Linked DNA regions of Homo sapiens: region 2 is linked to region 1. Evidence: fine-mapped expression QTL. Tissue or cell type: whole blood. Region 1 holds a variant in brackets; the other region holds the start of a gene. All regions are shown on one strand. Distances are from middle to middle.

Region 1 (8,185 bases):
TCTCCCAGGCTAGAGTGCAATGGCGTGATCTCGGCTCACTGCAACCTCTGCCTCCCAGGTTCATGCGATTCTTCTGCGTCAACCTCCCGAGTAGCTGGGATTACAGGCGCCTGACACCATGCCCGGCTAATTTTTGTATTTTTTTTTTTTTTTTTAGTAGAGATGGGGTTTCACCATGTTGGCCATGCTGGTCTCGAACTCCTGACCTCAGGTCATCCGCCCACCTCGGCCTCCCAAAGTACTGGGATTACAGGTGTGAGCCACCGTGCCTGGCCCTAGTTAACCAATTTTCTCCTGAGAAACACGTTTCCTGTTTTTCTGTTGTACCCAGTATCTGCAGTTTCCCATGGTGCTCCAGTCCTCTACTGAGGAGCATTTCAGCTGTTTCCTGTTCTCTCTGTTCTACCCAGTCTTGACAGAGTTTGGAAGGATGTTTTTCTTTTCTTAGACATGTTATTTTAGAGCACTCTCAGGGATTCAGTAGTCACATGGAATTTCTTGATGTAATGTTTTGTTTTGTTTTGAGATAGAGTTTTACTCTTGTCAACCAGGCTGGATTGCAGTGGCGTAATCTTGGCTCACTGCAACCTCTGTCTCCTGGGTTCAAGCAATTCTCCTGCCTCAGCTTCTCAGGTAGCTGGGATTACAGGTGCCCACCATCACACCTGGCTAATTTTGTGTTTTTAGTAGAGAGGGGGTTTTGCCATGTTGGCCAGGCTGGTCTCGAACTCCTGACCTCAAGTGATCCACCCACCTCGGCCTCCCAAAGTGCTGGGATTACAGGTGTGAGCCACCATGCCCGGCTGTGATTTAATGTTTATAATTTTAAAACCCATGAATGTTTTCAGGGAATTAGAGTTAACTTTTAGAAAATTGCTTTTGTAGTGTCCTGTGTTATCCTTATGTGAGTAAAGCATTATCCTGTAGGCTGAGAGTAGAGAGTACAAAACAGAGGCCAGGCCCTGATGGATTCACCATGAGGCTTCACTCTTTCTCTTCACCTTTCACTACTGAAAGCTGTTAGTATGTGTCTATTCACTATGTGATCCTAGGACATATTTTACTGATATGATTATTTGAGTAGGAGTTGTGTGGTGGCAATTGTGGGTTGTTTTTTTTGGCGGGGCCGGGGTAGGGGGTTGAGACAGGGTCTGGAGTGCAGTGGCATGATCTCAGCTCACTGCAGCTTTGACTGCCTGAGCTCACGCAATTCTCTTGCCTCAGCCTCCTGAGTAGCTGGGACCACAGAAAGGAACCACCATACCCAGCTGATTTTAAAAATTATTTGTAGAGGGGAGGTCCTGCTATATTGCCTGGGCTGGTCTCAAACTCCTGGGCCCAGGCGATCCTCCCACCTTGGCCTCCCAAATTGCTGAGATTACAGACATGAGCCACTATGCCTGGCCCAGCAATTGCTTTAACAGTGGTTAATACGGATATTCCTTGAGCCAGAAGCATAATTTTCCCCATCTGATGCCCAAAATATGAAAGGAAAGAGAAGACATTTACAGGTCTGCAGAAGCAGGGCCCCACAAGGTGGCTACAGATATTATTATGTGGGGCAGGGGTAGGGGAGGGAGGCAGTAGGGAGTTGTATGAAAAGTTTAGATCATTTTTTAGTAAAAACTCCATCTTTTAAGGGCGAATTATTTAAAATATGTCCTTATAGGCTGGGCGCGGTGGCTTATGCCTGTAATCCCAGCACTTTGGGAGGCCAAGGTGGGCAGATCACCTGAGGTCAGGAGTTCGAGACCAGCCTGGCCAACGTGGCGAAACCCTGTCTCTACTAAAAATACAAAAATTAGCTGGGCATGATGGTGCACGCCTGTAATCCCAGCTACCCGGGAGGCTGAGGTACGAGAATCGCTTGAACCTGGGAGGCAGAGGTTGCGGTGAGCCGAGATCGCGCCACTGCCCTCCTGCCTGGGTGCCAGAGCAAGACTCCATCTCAAAATAAAATAATGAAATAAAATATGTTCTTATAGTTACTTGTATAGCAGTCATATTTTCCCTAAGTGCTGGTTCCTTAGGAGCAAGGACTATGCCTTGTCACCCTTGTATCCCCAGCAGTGCCTTGCATGTAGTACAGCAAATATGGGCTGATTAATTAATAAACAGAAATAGTGAGATGTGCCATACACATATGCAAGTCCTAGTTATCAAAGTTAAATAAAAATGTCTTCATTTTTCCCAATTCATTACTCTTACTAAGCAATGAATAATTTCTTGAAAAGGAACTCTGTTACATGTATTCTGGGCAAAAACTGGCTAACTCACTAGTTCACAGCTATTTTTATTATACTTTGTTAAAACAAACAAAATGGGCAAGATTAAGGATGCTGTATTCTCCCGCTCTTGGAATGAAATTTGGTTTGAGTGTTCATCACTGAAAAGTATCATTTTAAATTCTTTTCTACTTCATTTTCTGCAGTGGAAAGTTACGGAAATACAGTTTGAAGGAAATAATTTCAGCCTACAATAATTAAAAATATTGCCATGGGTTTTTAAAAACTGATTTTCCTTTGAACTCTTGTACAGTATTTTGATGTGCATGACAAATAATGACATATATGGAGGCTGTCTTTGACGTCAGCATCTCACTTGGCATTGTTTCACATGCAGGTAAAACTTGCCTATTGGAAGTTTCTTTAAATGTAATAAACCTACCTACAGTTTATTTCTGATAGCCTTTGGGATTTAAGAGAGAAAACCAATACTTTAATTGTTTTAAAATCAAGGAAGCAAAATATCTGTGGGAAGGTGAGCTACTTAGCATTCAACAATGCAAAGTTTCAAAGCATTTTGCAAATTTTAAATATACGCTATAATTCTTCTATAATTGGTGTCTTTGGTACTTTTTGGGTAAATTGGAGTTATTCCAAAATAATTATATTTTATAGCACTTTTGACACCATAACACTTAGCAGCAGGATTTTTAAATTAAAGTACTGTTTAGTTCTTTGCATTCTGTGATATTATGTGTATGGACAACTTTAATTGAAATGTCTAATTCTGGTAGAGGAGGAGATCTCATTAATTGAAAATTATAAAAGGTTTCAAAAAGTAAGTATTTTTAAAATTGTATCTTTTCTTTTTGGTGTCCTTTTCAAAGAATAAATATTCTTAGTTGTGCCTCCGAAAATCACTTACGGAGCAAATTGCACTTCGGGATTCTATACTTGTACCAGTAGAGGTCACTGTGCACCTATAAAAGGAAACCCAGTGCTTGCTTCTAGGGATGAGCTAGTTATCCTAGAATGTTATAACTAATAACATGAGCTAGTTATCCTAGAATGTTATAACTAATAACAATCATTGATATTTCTGGGAACGTAACCAAATTCCCACCCCACTCCCACCTCACCTCTTAACAAAATCACTTGCCTGTTATCTATCACCTGAGAGTCACCTGTTACTGTCTGTCCACATAATGGAAGCGTATTCTGATGAGGTTAAGTAGAGCCCCGGCACACTGTCTCATAGTATACTTAGGTGAATCAGCCAAAGCACCAGAAACTATGATTTCACAGAAGCAGCCATTCAAACTCTCAGTTTCAGAGTTTGAAAGAACTTTAACATTCATCAGATTCAGCATCTGAGATGGGGTTGGAGACTTTTTCATCTATTCTTAACATTTAATTTGCAAATCCAAAATTGTTTCAAAGGTATTCTTTTCAGTACTGTCGTCCATTTAAGAATGAGATTTTACTTATTAAAACTGTTTAGACGTTTACAGTATTATAGTGTCCATGCTACATAGTGTTTGATTCTCTGAGTGTCCAACAAAATATTCGTAGAATATTGTTTTATATGATTATCGCCACAGAGGTTTCTGATAACAGAGGAGTATGTGAGAACTGAACAAAATGCTGGTTTGTTATAAAACTGCAATGGTGCCCTTACCAGATAGTCAAAACAAATGTGTAAATCTCCAATCAGCCTTGTGCAATGACCCAAGTTCCTGTGAAGGTGGCTGTAAAAGGTGATAAAGGAATGTCGTGAATGGAGCAAGCAGCGGGGAATCATAGACCAATGTGATTGGGCCTCAGTTTACAGAAGGAGAATACAATGTAGGTGCTTTCATGGTTCCCTTCAGCTCTAACACTCTCATCTTCAGTGCAGAGGGCACATTGCAGTGGTTAGCAACATGGGTCCTGGAGAGAGTGCCTGGATTTGAGTTATGACTCTGCCACTTAGTAGTCATGAGGTTATCTTATAGTTATCCTTTCTGCACCTGTTTCGACATCTGTAAAATGGGCTTGATACTAGTACCTGCCTCATAGCATTGTGGTATGCAGTCATTGAGTTATATAGGTAAAGTACTTAGAATAGTACATAGAATGTAGTAAATACTCAATCTGCTATAATTGCATACCCATTTTTTTCCTAAATAGAACTCATGCTGGGATATGGTAGCTGAATTCTTAAACCTCACTCTATTGACTGCTCTCTGAGGATCAAAACAGAGTATATTCTGTGTTTTCACTAACTCTTAATGAATAACATCTATGTCAAGGAACCAGATGTGTATAGAATCTTTAATGATTTAAATTTTCTCTACTTTTTTTTATTTAAAGCTCTTCCTGTGCTCATTCTTGTACAATGA[G/GT]TTTTTTTTTTAAATCTGGAATTTTTTCTGTGGAGTACATAATCACATTTTTAGTTGCTGTTTTTAGTGACTCATATTGATGCTTTTTTTGCAATTAAATGTCCTAGTTTCAGTGAAAGTCACAAAATACAGTATTTTTTTCAGTATTTCTCTATAGCATTCCAATTTTTATAGTATTTTTTCACATTAGAAATCTGTTAGGTCATTTATAAGGCATTTGTGCATTTGTCTTCAACAGACCCATTAAAAATTTTAAAGCAGTAATTTGATTATTCGTATTTGGACTCTCTATTAACTTTATTAACTTTCTTTTTTTTTTTTTTTTTGGTGGGGGTGGTGGGGGGACAGAGTCTTGCTCTGTCACCCAAGCTGGAGTGCAGTGCGCTCCAGCTTACAACCTCCGCCTCCCAGGTTCAAGCGATTATTGTGCCTCATCCTCCTGAGTAGCTGGGACTACAGCCGTGCGCCACCGTGCCTGGCTAATTTTTTTGTATTTTTTTAGTAGAGACAGGGCTTCGCCATGTTGCCCAGGCTGGTCTCGAACTCCTGAGCTCAGACAGTCCGCCCGCCCCTGCCTCCCAGAGTGCTAGGATTACAGGCGTGAGCCACCATGCCTGGCTTAACTTTCAAATTCTATGTAATCAAAGTTTATTACCCACATACCAATTCGTAGTGAGGGAAACCAATATCTGGCACAGAAATATATAGACACATTTTTGTAGGTATAAATTTGGTCTTGAAAGGTGAGACTGATACTAGCTAAAATTTTTATGTTCACTATATACTTTTAAACCCCGTATCCCTAAGCAATTATCTACATAGTCACTGCCTCTATGTAGGTGGGATAAACCAACTGTAGTGAGACATTTTGGTTCCAACTTGCTATCATCTATTATAGGTAGGTGAACTGGCAGAAAAATTACCCAAATGTGATGTCTCATAAACATCTGGCCTTTCTTTAGGGATGGTCAGGTTTCCCTAGACTAGATGGAAGGCCATGAACTACACCAACTTTCTGATTAACTTAAGAGCCATATATTTCTTAGGCCAAGGGTGTTAATAAGGTTGACCATGGTATTCCTTGAAATTATATGCCGTATTACCATAATACCCAAAAATCCGTGCTCAGATTTTTTTATTTTTTTAAAGATGGAGTCTTGCTCTGTTGCCCAGCTGGAGTGCAGTGGCGCGATCTCGGCTTACTGCAGCCTCCGCCTCCTGGCTTCAAACAATTCTGTCTCAGCCTCCCGAGTAGCTGGGATTCAGGCATGTGCCACCATGCCCGGCTAATTTTTGTATTTTTAGTAGAGATGGGGTTTTGTCATGTTGGCCAGGCTGGTCTCAAACTCCTAACCTCAGGTGATCCACCTGCCTCGGCCTCTCAAAGTACTGGGATTACAGGCATGAGCCACCACACCCGGCCTGTGCTCAGATTTTTAAATGAGTCACATGTGTGAATACTCCCTCTCACCACCTCCCCCCCACCCCAAAACACACACACACAAAGGTGAAACAGCCTGGAATAAAACATTCCGTAGTACAATATGATACCAGCTATTTCTTAAACATGATTGTATTTTAACTTCTATAAATCAGCTATCAAAGACAGAAGTAGGCCTCTTTTTTGTATGTTTCCCCCAGCTATATTAGGGTCTGTTATGTGTAGTGAGTCCAGAATGCTGAATTATGTCCAATAATCCAGGTGGTCTAATGGCTAGGAGACAGAAGGAACTTCTCCTGGAATATATGGCATCACCACCTGTTTTATAAATCTAAGTTACAGGTTGGTTTTTTTACAAGATAAAAAAAAATCGGCTGGGCAGGTGGCTCACACCTGTAATCCCAGCACTTTGGGAGGCCGAGGTGGGTAGATTGCCTGAGCTCTGGAGTTTGAAACCAGCCTGACCAACACGGTGAAACCCCCGTCTCTACTAAAAATACAAAAAATTAGCCAGGCGTGGTGGCACGCGCCTGTAATCCCAGGTACTCTGGACGCTGAGGCAAGAGAATCGCTTGAACCCGGGTAGCGGAGGTTACAGTGAGCCGAGATCGTGCCACTGCACTCCAGCCTGGGCTACAGAGTGAGACTCCATCCCCCACAAAAAAAAGAATAATTACTTTTCACTGCTTTCCAGGTATTTTATAAGTTTAATAACTAAGACTATTGGAGAGAACTTATTTTAGTTAACAGAGTGACATTGTATTGAGATATATTTTGCAAATAATTTGTTTATGGAGGCTCAGGAAATAGAACACTATTTAGGTCACTTTTCAGTAACTTTTTTCCACTATGATAAACTCTTGTAACTTTTGGAATATTAAGGTTTTTTATTGTTGTTATTGTTTTAGACAGGGTCTTTCTCTGTCGCCCAGGGAGGAGTGCAGTGGCATGATCTTGGCTCACTGCAACCTCCACCTCCCGGGTTCAAGTGATTCTCCTGCCTCTGCCTCCCGAGTAGCTGGGATTACAGGCATGCACCACCACTCCTGGCTAGTTTTTGTATTTTTAGTAGAGTTGGGGTTTTGCCATGTTGGCCAGGCTGGTCTCGAACTCCTGACCTCAAGTGATCCACCTGCTTCGTCCTCCCAAAATGGTGGGATTACAGGTTTGAGCCACTATGCCCGGCTGGAATATTTTTACTCAATATTTTCCTTCTTTAAAATGCTTAAATAATACAGTAATTTTATTGCATATTAATAGAAGTATTTGAAGGCAAAAATTAATTTCTTAAATTTATGCTTGGGGATGACTGGCATTTCTTCTGGGTATATGGAAGCTCTAAGCTTGGAAAATACTCTGTATCATTTTAAAATTCTAAACTTTTAACCTGATTAAGACTTGAATGAATGTATCATCCCTACACTGAATGCATTCATTTATTCAGCAAACACATAGGCACCAGGCACACGCTAAAAGAAAGCAAGGTCTCTGCCCTTGAGGAATCCACAATGCAGTCAGGAAGGTAATTACTGGACAGAGTGATTGGCGCCATGGCAGAGATGTGGCAGCGTGCTGTGGAAATGCATCCATGAACCGTGGAAAGGGGTGGAGTAGGGAAGGCGATTAGAGAAATTGGCACTTGACGGGCGTCCTGCAGCTTGCTGGAAGTGAAGTGCATTTGCAGGGGTTACTGGAAGGCATGAAAGGGTATGGAGTGAATGGAGGGCAGGGAGTAGCTCTGCTTGGCCCCTCCGGTTGTGAGGGGCCCTCACTGCCCAGCTAAGAGCTTGCAGTTTCTCTTGTAGGCAGTAGGAGTCTATCAGCAGCAGGTGCCCTGGTTCAGATTACAGATACATTCTTACCTCCTTAACTAGCAGAGTCATGTGAAACAGGAGTGGTCTCAGGAAAAAGGCTGAGAAAGCCAGAAATTGTCTTTCAATTCCCCCTCTATTTTGGGTCCCAGTACCCCTTTCTGCATTTTGGAACATCATCTCCTTAACCACCAGAGCCTTTATCACCTCCCCAGCCTTGATCAGAAAGGATCATATGCAAGGTCAAAGGGAGAAAGAATGATTTTACCTTACCTTTTTTATTTTACGCGAACATCCCCTTCCTTCTGCCCAGACCTGTTCCACATG
Region 2 (8,185 bases), 130 kb before region 1:
ACATGAGAAAAACCTGTACTGTAATAATGAATTATTATTTTATGCTTAAACTAGCTCAAATTGGCTGGTTATACTGGCAATCAGAATCCTAGCGTACATACATACACACACACACACAGACACACACACACGGGTACTGTTTTCACACTCTGTATGTAGTTGTGTATAAATTTTGTATATAGTCATTGCACTGGAACCCCAGGCTCCCCTCTAACCCTTCTCTTGCTTTATCGCCTTCTTATATTAAGATTGTGTTTAGGCTGGGCGAGGTGGCTCATGCCTGTAATCCCAGCACTTTGGGAGGCCGAGGAGGGTGAATCACTGGAGGTCAGGAGTTTGAGATCAGCCTGGCCAACATGGTGAAACCCCGTCTCTACTAAAAATACAAAAATTAGCCGAACGTGGCGTCGGTTGCCTGTAGTCCTAGCTACTTGGGAGGTTAAGGCAGGAGAATCGCTTGAACCCGGAAGGCGGAGGTTGCGGTGAGCCGAGATCGCGTCATTGCACTCCAGCCTGGGCGACAAGAGCAAAACTCAGTCTCAAAAAATAAATAAATAAAAAATAAAAGCCGGGCGCGGCTATAATCCCAGCACTTTGGGAGGCCAAGGCAAGCGGATCACAAGGTCAGGAGATCAAGACCATCCTGGCCAACATGGTGAAACCCCATCTCTACTAAAAATACAAAAATTAGCTGGGTGTGGTGGCACGTGCCTGTAATCCCCGCTACTCAGGAGGCTGAGGCACGAGAATCGCTTGAACCCAGAAGGTGGAGGTTGCAGTGAGCCGAGATCGTGCCACTGCACTCCAGCCTGGCTACAGAGCGAGACTCCGTCCAGCCCCGCCCCAACACCCCGCAAAAAAAAAGATTGTGTTTAGGCTGCTCTCTGTATCTTCCCCCTCTGCTTACCCTGATCAAACTATGCCCTCTGTTACCATTCTGAATGCGGAAGCTTTATTAAATCAAATTGTGAAGCATGTTAACCACTGATTTTATCCTTTAGCTTGTATTGCATTTTAATTTCTCAGGCCTAAGTAATTCCATCAACACTCATTTCATGTATGACCTAATAAATAATCCCTCACAGGCCAAAGCAGCGCCTTTTTTTTCCGTTCTTTTCTTTTTTGTTTCTCTTTTTGAGACAGAGCTTCACTCTTGTTGCCCCGGCTGGAGTGCAGTCACGCGATCTCGGCACGCTGCAACCTCCGCCTCCCGGGTTCAAGCGAATCTCCTGCCTCGGCCTCCCGAGTAGCTGGGACTACAAGGGCGTGCCACCACGCCTGGCTACTTTTTTTGTATTTTTAGTACAGACGGGATTTCACCATGTTGGCCAGGCTGGTCTCGAACTCCTAACCTCAGGTGATCCACCCGCCTCGGTCTCCCAAAGTGCTCGGATTACAGGCGAGAGCCACCACACCCGGCCTCAAAGCAGTGACTTCTGATTGTGAGAACCTGGCATGCACAGAACTGAGTGCAGTACTTTCTCAAGCCACAGTAAATGCTCCTTTAGATGGAGTGATTAGGGGACCTCTTTCAGGAAGATTGAAGGAGGAGGAGTCAGCTATGGAAAGGACAAGAGCAACAGCACCCTGTGTGAAGAGACACAATTGTCCTACCTATGAAAACACTGCTTCTTGTCAAGTAACAGAAAGGCCAGTGTGGCAGGAGGAGAGTCAGGGAGCAAGGGAAGGTGGTGTGAGCTGCGGCAGGCTGGGCTGGGCCTTCAGGCCATGGTGAGAAGTTATGATGGTATCAAATGGGCAATGAGAAAGTATTTAAGGGATTTAAGTAAGGGAGTGACCTGATCTGATTTATCTAAGAAAAACATCCCTCGGCTACTGTCTGGAAATGAACTGTAGGAAGACAAGCAAGGGACCAGTTAGGAGGCTACTGCAAGTGTCAGTAAAAGATCATGGCTAGGCCTGAAGATGGGAGACGGTGGAGAAATCTGTGACAGAATTTGAGATTTTGAAAGTAAATATAAAAGCACTTGGTGAGTTATCCCTGTTACCTTCTCAGTAGCCAGGCCCTATACTAAAGCTGCCAATGAAGTAGAATGAAGGCTCTGAAACCTCAAGAAGGGCCTTACTTTCCCAGTTTCACGGGGCTCTGCGCACAGCTCTTAGGAACTACCTTGATTCCAAAACTCTCCAAAAGTACGATCCTGCCCTTATGTTCCTCTCTCCCTTTGAGTGAATTTGGGAATGATTGTTGAAAAATGACTTTCAACAAGAGGACAGCAGTGTTCGGGGTTCCACGATACATCCCTATCTTTTAACATCGATAAGTATTTTTAAATTGGTACCTTATTTTGCGCTGCACGAGAGAGAAGGCTTTTTACTAGCAGCATCTCCTAATCCATCTAAGAAATACTGTATTTACCTTTACTCCAAGTATCCTAGGGCAAAATTCCTTTAGAACAATTCATCTTCCGAAACAGACGGGTTCCCTTTTCACCTATTCAAGTGTTGTGCATTCTAGGGTCCCCTTCCCGCCTTGCAGACAAATGCGCTCATTGTGCCACTCCAGTCCCTGGATCCTATGCAGCGGGCATTTCCTGCAAGGAGCTGCTGCATGCCTGTTTCCCTCGCCGCCTGCCCCAACCCGAATCCAAGGCTTTGGTTTCTAATGTTCCCTCCCTGTGCAGTTAAAACAATTGAGTTCAGTTACTAAATAGATGACCAGGAACTTTTTCTTGGCGAAGGCTGCGGATGTTTAGGGCACTGTCCAGTAAAGTTGTGAAAAGCAACTAAACCCTGCCGCTTGTGCAAAAGGACCAATCCACCGGGAAACAAGGGAAACGCGCACATTTCCTCAACTTGCCGCTTCTTGGGCACGTTTAGGCTCTTATTAGAGCCGCGCTTTGGAGTTGCCTCCTCCTGCTGTACAAACCCGCCGCGGCGTTCCCCCGGATGCCGCAGCGCTCACTCCCGCGTCCGCGGGGCGCGGGGAGGGGGCGAGGCGCGGGCGGCCCCGGAGCCAAGGCGAGGGCAGCGGAGCCCAGCCGGGCCTACGGGCGGCGACGCTCTGGCCCCAGCGCGCTCGATGGTTTCCGCGCGGCCGCCGGGGCTCGCACGGTCCAGTCGCCAGGGGGCGCGCTAGCCGGCGCCGCGGATCCCCGAACTGCGCGGCCCGACTCGAGTCCGCCATATTGGATGCCGCAGCCGCTGCTGCCAGCGCTTCCTCCTCTGTCTTCGCCGAGCGGGGCTGGTTCCTGCGGCCCGAGCGGCGGGGAGGTGAAACAGGAGCCCGTCGGAGGAAGGGGCAGAAGGGAGTGGAGAGTGTAGGGGAAGGGGCTAGAGGGAGGGGGACCGAAACGGAGCGGGGCAGAGAAGAGAAGGCGCCGCGGCCCAGCCCCTCCCCCGCCCGCCGCCGACCCGCCCCGGCAGCGCCTCTGTTCCCTAGAACGGCGCTCCCCCCGCCCTAGCGGCCATGCCGGTGCCGCTCTGCCGCTGAGGGAGCCCTTCCCCGCCAGCGCGTGCCCTTCCACTCCGCCCCGAGGTCGCAGCGGCCCGCTCTCCCGCCAGCGCCCCCTCCTCGCGGCCACGCAGCAGCCCGCGTCTCGCTCTCCCCACCCAGTGCAGTGGCCGCCGCCTCTTCCGCCGCCGGGCTCGGGGCCTCCGCAGCGACAACATGGAGGCCGTGAAGACCTTCAATAGCGAGGTTGGTATGGCAGCCGGGTTCCCCTGCTCCTGCCCGCACCGCCCCCACCCCTGGTCGAGGCCGGGGCCCGGAGGGTGGGCGCGGGCCTGCGGGTTTTTTAAGGGTGGGGTGAGCGGTGGCCTAGCAGTGCCCGTGGGGGAGGGGTGTTTCTCCTCTGGGTGCCCCTCCCCCGGGTCCGGGAGGAGGGTTGGGGGAGGGCCGCCCTGGGGCGGAGGGAGGTTCTGGCGTCTCCGGCGTCCTATGGAATGGCTGCGAGCTCGGAGGGAAAGACCCGGTTGGGCCCTCACCCGGAGACTCCCGACAGGTCCCTCGAGGTCAGTTCCGCCGAGGCCTGGCCCGCCCACCTCCTTCCTGGGCCTTTGAGGATTTAAGTGGACGCTGGACATGACTCTCCAGACCTTCCCGGGTCCTCACTGAGGCTAACACCGATTGGGGGCGGTGGGGGAAATGAACCTACGGGGTGTTGATCTGTGGTCACGTTACACGTAGTGTTTATAATTGAGGCATTGTTGACTAGGTAATTTGCCAGCTAGGGACTTGAGCTAATTGGATGGTTGGTAGGCAGGCAAAGGTTATTCTGCAATATCTTTTATTTTTACTCGCTCCTCTTCTAATCCATCACGACATAAAGACAAATGGTAGGGAGAGATCTGTGCATCGAGAGATGGAAGATTATGGGGGAAACATTTCTCGCTGGTTCATTCACGTGTCAAACAAGATTTTAAAAAGCAGATTCCATTTTCACTGTGTAGTTGAATTTACTAGTCTGGAAGAAGACAGGTTTTGATGTATTCAATTTCTTTTTAAACTCCGACTTCAATAGGCCTTAATGTAAACATCAAACATAGCAAGTACACATCTGCACAGTCAGCATTAGTATCCCTACCCGTACGCCTTGGAAAGTGTAATTATGGCCGGGAACAGTGGCTCAGGCCTGTAATCCCAGCACTTTGGGAGGCCGAGGCGGGCCAATCACGAGGTCAGGAGTTCAAGACCAGCCTGGCCAACGTGGTGAAACCCTGTCTCTACTAAAAATACAAAAAATTAGCTGGGCGTAGTGGCAGGCACCTGTAATCCCAGCTACTTAGGAGGCTGAGGCAGGAGAATCGCTTGAACCTGGGAAGCGGAGGTTGCAGTGAGCCGAGATCTGCGCCACTGCAATCCAGCCCAGTGACAGAGTGAGACTCTGTCTACAAAAAAAAAAAAAAGAAAAAGAAAAAGTGTAATTATGCTGGTAACTAAATTAGCATAAATTTTATGAACTCTTAAAGTGCCAATACTTTATTCGATACTATGATTGTTAAAGAGTATCTTTAATATTTACCTCTTAAAATACGAGGCTTTTTGCTGTGACGGCCCAAATAGGACAGTACTTTTAAATGCCGTTGCATAGTTTTATCTTGTTTTAATTTCTTTAAAAAGAAAAACAGTATTTGGGAATCTTAGCTAAGAGGCTAAACGGTAGATAATATTTGGGCTATTTTCAATAGCAGTGATACATAACTTTTTTTGGAAAGCATTTTCTTTTTTAATACTACATTTTTTATTTTTAACATTGATAAATTAGAGCAATAGACTTGGGAATCTTCTTTTTTTTTTTTTTTTGAGACAGAGTTTCGCTCTTGTTACCCAGGCTGGAGTGTCACCATCTCAGCTCACTGTAGCCTCCACCTCCCGGTTTCAAGCGATTCTTCTGCCTCAGTGTCCCGAGTAGCTGGGATTACAGGCGCACATCACCACGCCCCGCTAATTTTTGTATTTTTAGTAGAGATGGGGTTTCACCATGTTGGCCAGGCTGTTCTCAAACTCCTGACCTCAAGTGATCCACCCGCCTTGGCCTCCCAAAGTGCTGAGATTATGGGCGTGTGCCACTGCGCCTGGTGTTTCATTTTTTTTCATAGCTATCTTTCTTTTTTTGAGGAGTGTCATTCTGTCACCCAGGCTGGAGTGCAGTGGTGTGATCTTGGCTCACTGCATCCTTTGCCTCCCGGGCCCAAGGGGTCCTCCTCTCACCTCAGCCCCCCAAGTAGGTGAGATTACAGGCCAGTGTCACCATGCCCGTCATTTTTATTTTTTATAGAGAGGAGGTCTTGTTATGTTGCCCAGGCTGTTCTTGAACTCCTGGGCCCAAGCGGTCCTTTCACCTTGGCATCCCAAGTGCTGGGATGACAGATGTGAGCCACCACGCCTGGGGGATTTCGTTTTGTTTTGTTTTTTGCCCTCATTGGATTTAATTCCCGCCGCCACCCTCTTCCCCACACACACTTTGTTGGGTGTCTGTCTTTGGGGGGGTTCCTAATAATGTGGTCCTCCCCCTCAAAGGGCCATCCAAGACTTTTTTTTTTTTTTTTTTTTTGGAGACGGAGTTTTGCTCTTGTTGCCCAGGCTGGAGTGCAATGGCGAGATCTTGGCTCAATGCAACCTCCACCTCCTGGGTTCAAGCAATTCTCCTGCTTCAGCCTCCGGAGTAGCTGGGATTACAGGCACCCACCGCCATGCCCAGCTAGTTTTTTGTATTTTTAGTAGAGATGGGGTTTCATCACGTTGGCCAGGCTGGTCTCGAACTCCTGACCTCAGGTGATCCACCCGGCTCGGCCTCCCAAAGTGCTGGGATTACAGGCGTGAGCCACTGCGCCTGGCCCATCCATGACGTTTTAAACAGTAGCTCCCAAATATTAGATGTAAACAAGTGGTTAGTGCACTATGGTTGGTCACAGTAGGGAAGAAATGTTAATTCCAGTTTTTCGTTTTAATATTAATTAAGGATAAGGGGGCCTAACATTTACATGTGTAGATAGGTGTTTCACCTGTTTTCTCATTTTACAGGAACTTGAGGTTTGTCTTAGTCCCATTTTAGTGTATGTAGCACTCTCCCATTTCCCCATATGGATTTCAAAGAACTTAAGTCTTGTAACTTCCTTATTTATTTATATGCTCTAACTTCACCGTGTTTCAAAGTGGAGTTAGCTTAAAAATAGCAGTACAGAGTCAGGGAGTTGAGGAAGGGAAATATATTTGAAGAAGATTCAGAAAAATACTTTTTTTTTTAAACACAAAACAATACATAATACTGTTTTTTATTTTGAATGCAGTTTCTGTGAATGTTGTAATATTTGCTGATGTGTAGTAAACATTGTTATTGCAAATAAGTATATGCTGAGAAGTAGTTCAGTAATGATTGTTTTCCATTAAATTATGTGTTACAAATTACAAAAATTAAAAAGGAATTCTAGTTGCAGGATTAGGAGAAAAGGATGTTTTCGACGCTCATAGTTTGGCTTTTAAAGGTGTTTATCTTTGGGTTTAATCCATCACAACTTCTCTGCTAAATTTAAAGGTATCTTTGAAACATTGAATTGTCAATTCCATTTGCTTTGTAAGGAATCAAAATTTAGCTCTAAGAATAATCAGGAACGTTTGTCAACAAGATATTTTGATACTTCACCTTAAAATATTTAAAATAGGCTGGGCTCGATGGGTCATGCCTGTAATCCCATCCCTTTGGGAGGCCGAGGTGGGCAGATGACTTGAGCTCAGGAGTTCCATGCTAGCCTGGCCAGCATGGCGAAACCCCCATCTCTACAAAACAACAACAACAACACAAATTAGCTGGTCACGGTGGCATGTGCCTGTAGTCCCAACATGGGTGAAGGGGGTGTAAAGGAGGGGGCAGGTGCTGAGGTGGGAGGATCTCATGACCCAGGAAGGTGGAGGCTGCAGTGAGCTGCACCACTACACTCTGGCCCGGGCAACAGTGCGACCCTGAATCAGAAAAATTGAGACAGGTACTCGCTGTTGACAGGTCACCACGCCGGGCTAATTGTTTTTGTTTTGTAGAGATGGGGTTTTGCCATGTTGCCCTGGCTGGTCATGAACTCCTGAGCTCCGGTGATCTGCCCACCTCCCCTCCCAAAGTGCTGGGATTACAGGCCTAAGCCGTGGTGCCTGCCCCAAATTAAATGTTTAAAATACAAAATACTTAACCTTTTATGGCTTGCTAAGGCTCAGGTTTTTCCAGACTGAATTTTGTCACCCCCATCTTTTAATTTTGTGGAGATCATTGGTTTGAAAACCAGGAAGATGCCAGAGACTTTAGGAATACAGATTTTTGTGAATTGTGGGTGTGTGTCTGTAGTCTTAGCTACTTGGGAGGCTGAGGTGGGAGGATCTGTTGAGCCCAGGAGTTCGAGGCTATAGAGTGCAATTACTGCACCTGTGAATAGCCAGTGCACTCTAGCTTGGGCAACAGTGTGAGACTCTGCTTCAAAAAAAAAAAAAAGAAAAGAAAACCCCAATAATACAGATTTTTAATCTGCAAACTGTGGATGAGTTTCAGCTATGAAAATCCCAGACTTCATGCAAGATATGTATGAGTTGTTTTTGTCATGTCTACCCTCCCTACCATAATTTCTCAAAGGAGTTGACCTTTCACTTCTGTGTTAAAAATTACTATGTCAGAAGATCCTTTAATTGTGCAGGAATTATGTGGTAAATTTTTCTTCTCACGAGTTAAATGAGATTTAG

What was found. PIP is the estimated chance that this variant, and not a neighbour inherited with it, causes the effect.
Region 2: SCAF8 starts here. The variant in region 1 is fine-mapped to the expression of SCAF8 in whole blood (TOPMed, PIP 0.93).

What each region holds. Positions count from the first base shown.
Region 1 is chr6:154,865,065-154,873,249 of GRCh38, forward strand. No RefSeq gene overlaps it. Among named protein-coding and RNA genes, the nearest start is that of MIR1273C, 16 kb to the left of the region's middle. The variant G/GT (reference allele first, on the strand shown) is at 4,607.
Region 2 is chr6:154,730,270-154,738,454 of GRCh38, forward strand. It overlaps SCAF8 (SR-related CTD associated factor 8), which reads left to right and starts at 3,147. Exons shown (of 20, transcript NM_014892.5): 1 at 3,147-3,661. The coding sequence starts at 3,632. RefSeq lists silencers at 2,780-3,019, 3,050-3,169, 3,320-3,919 and an enhancer at 3,180-3,683.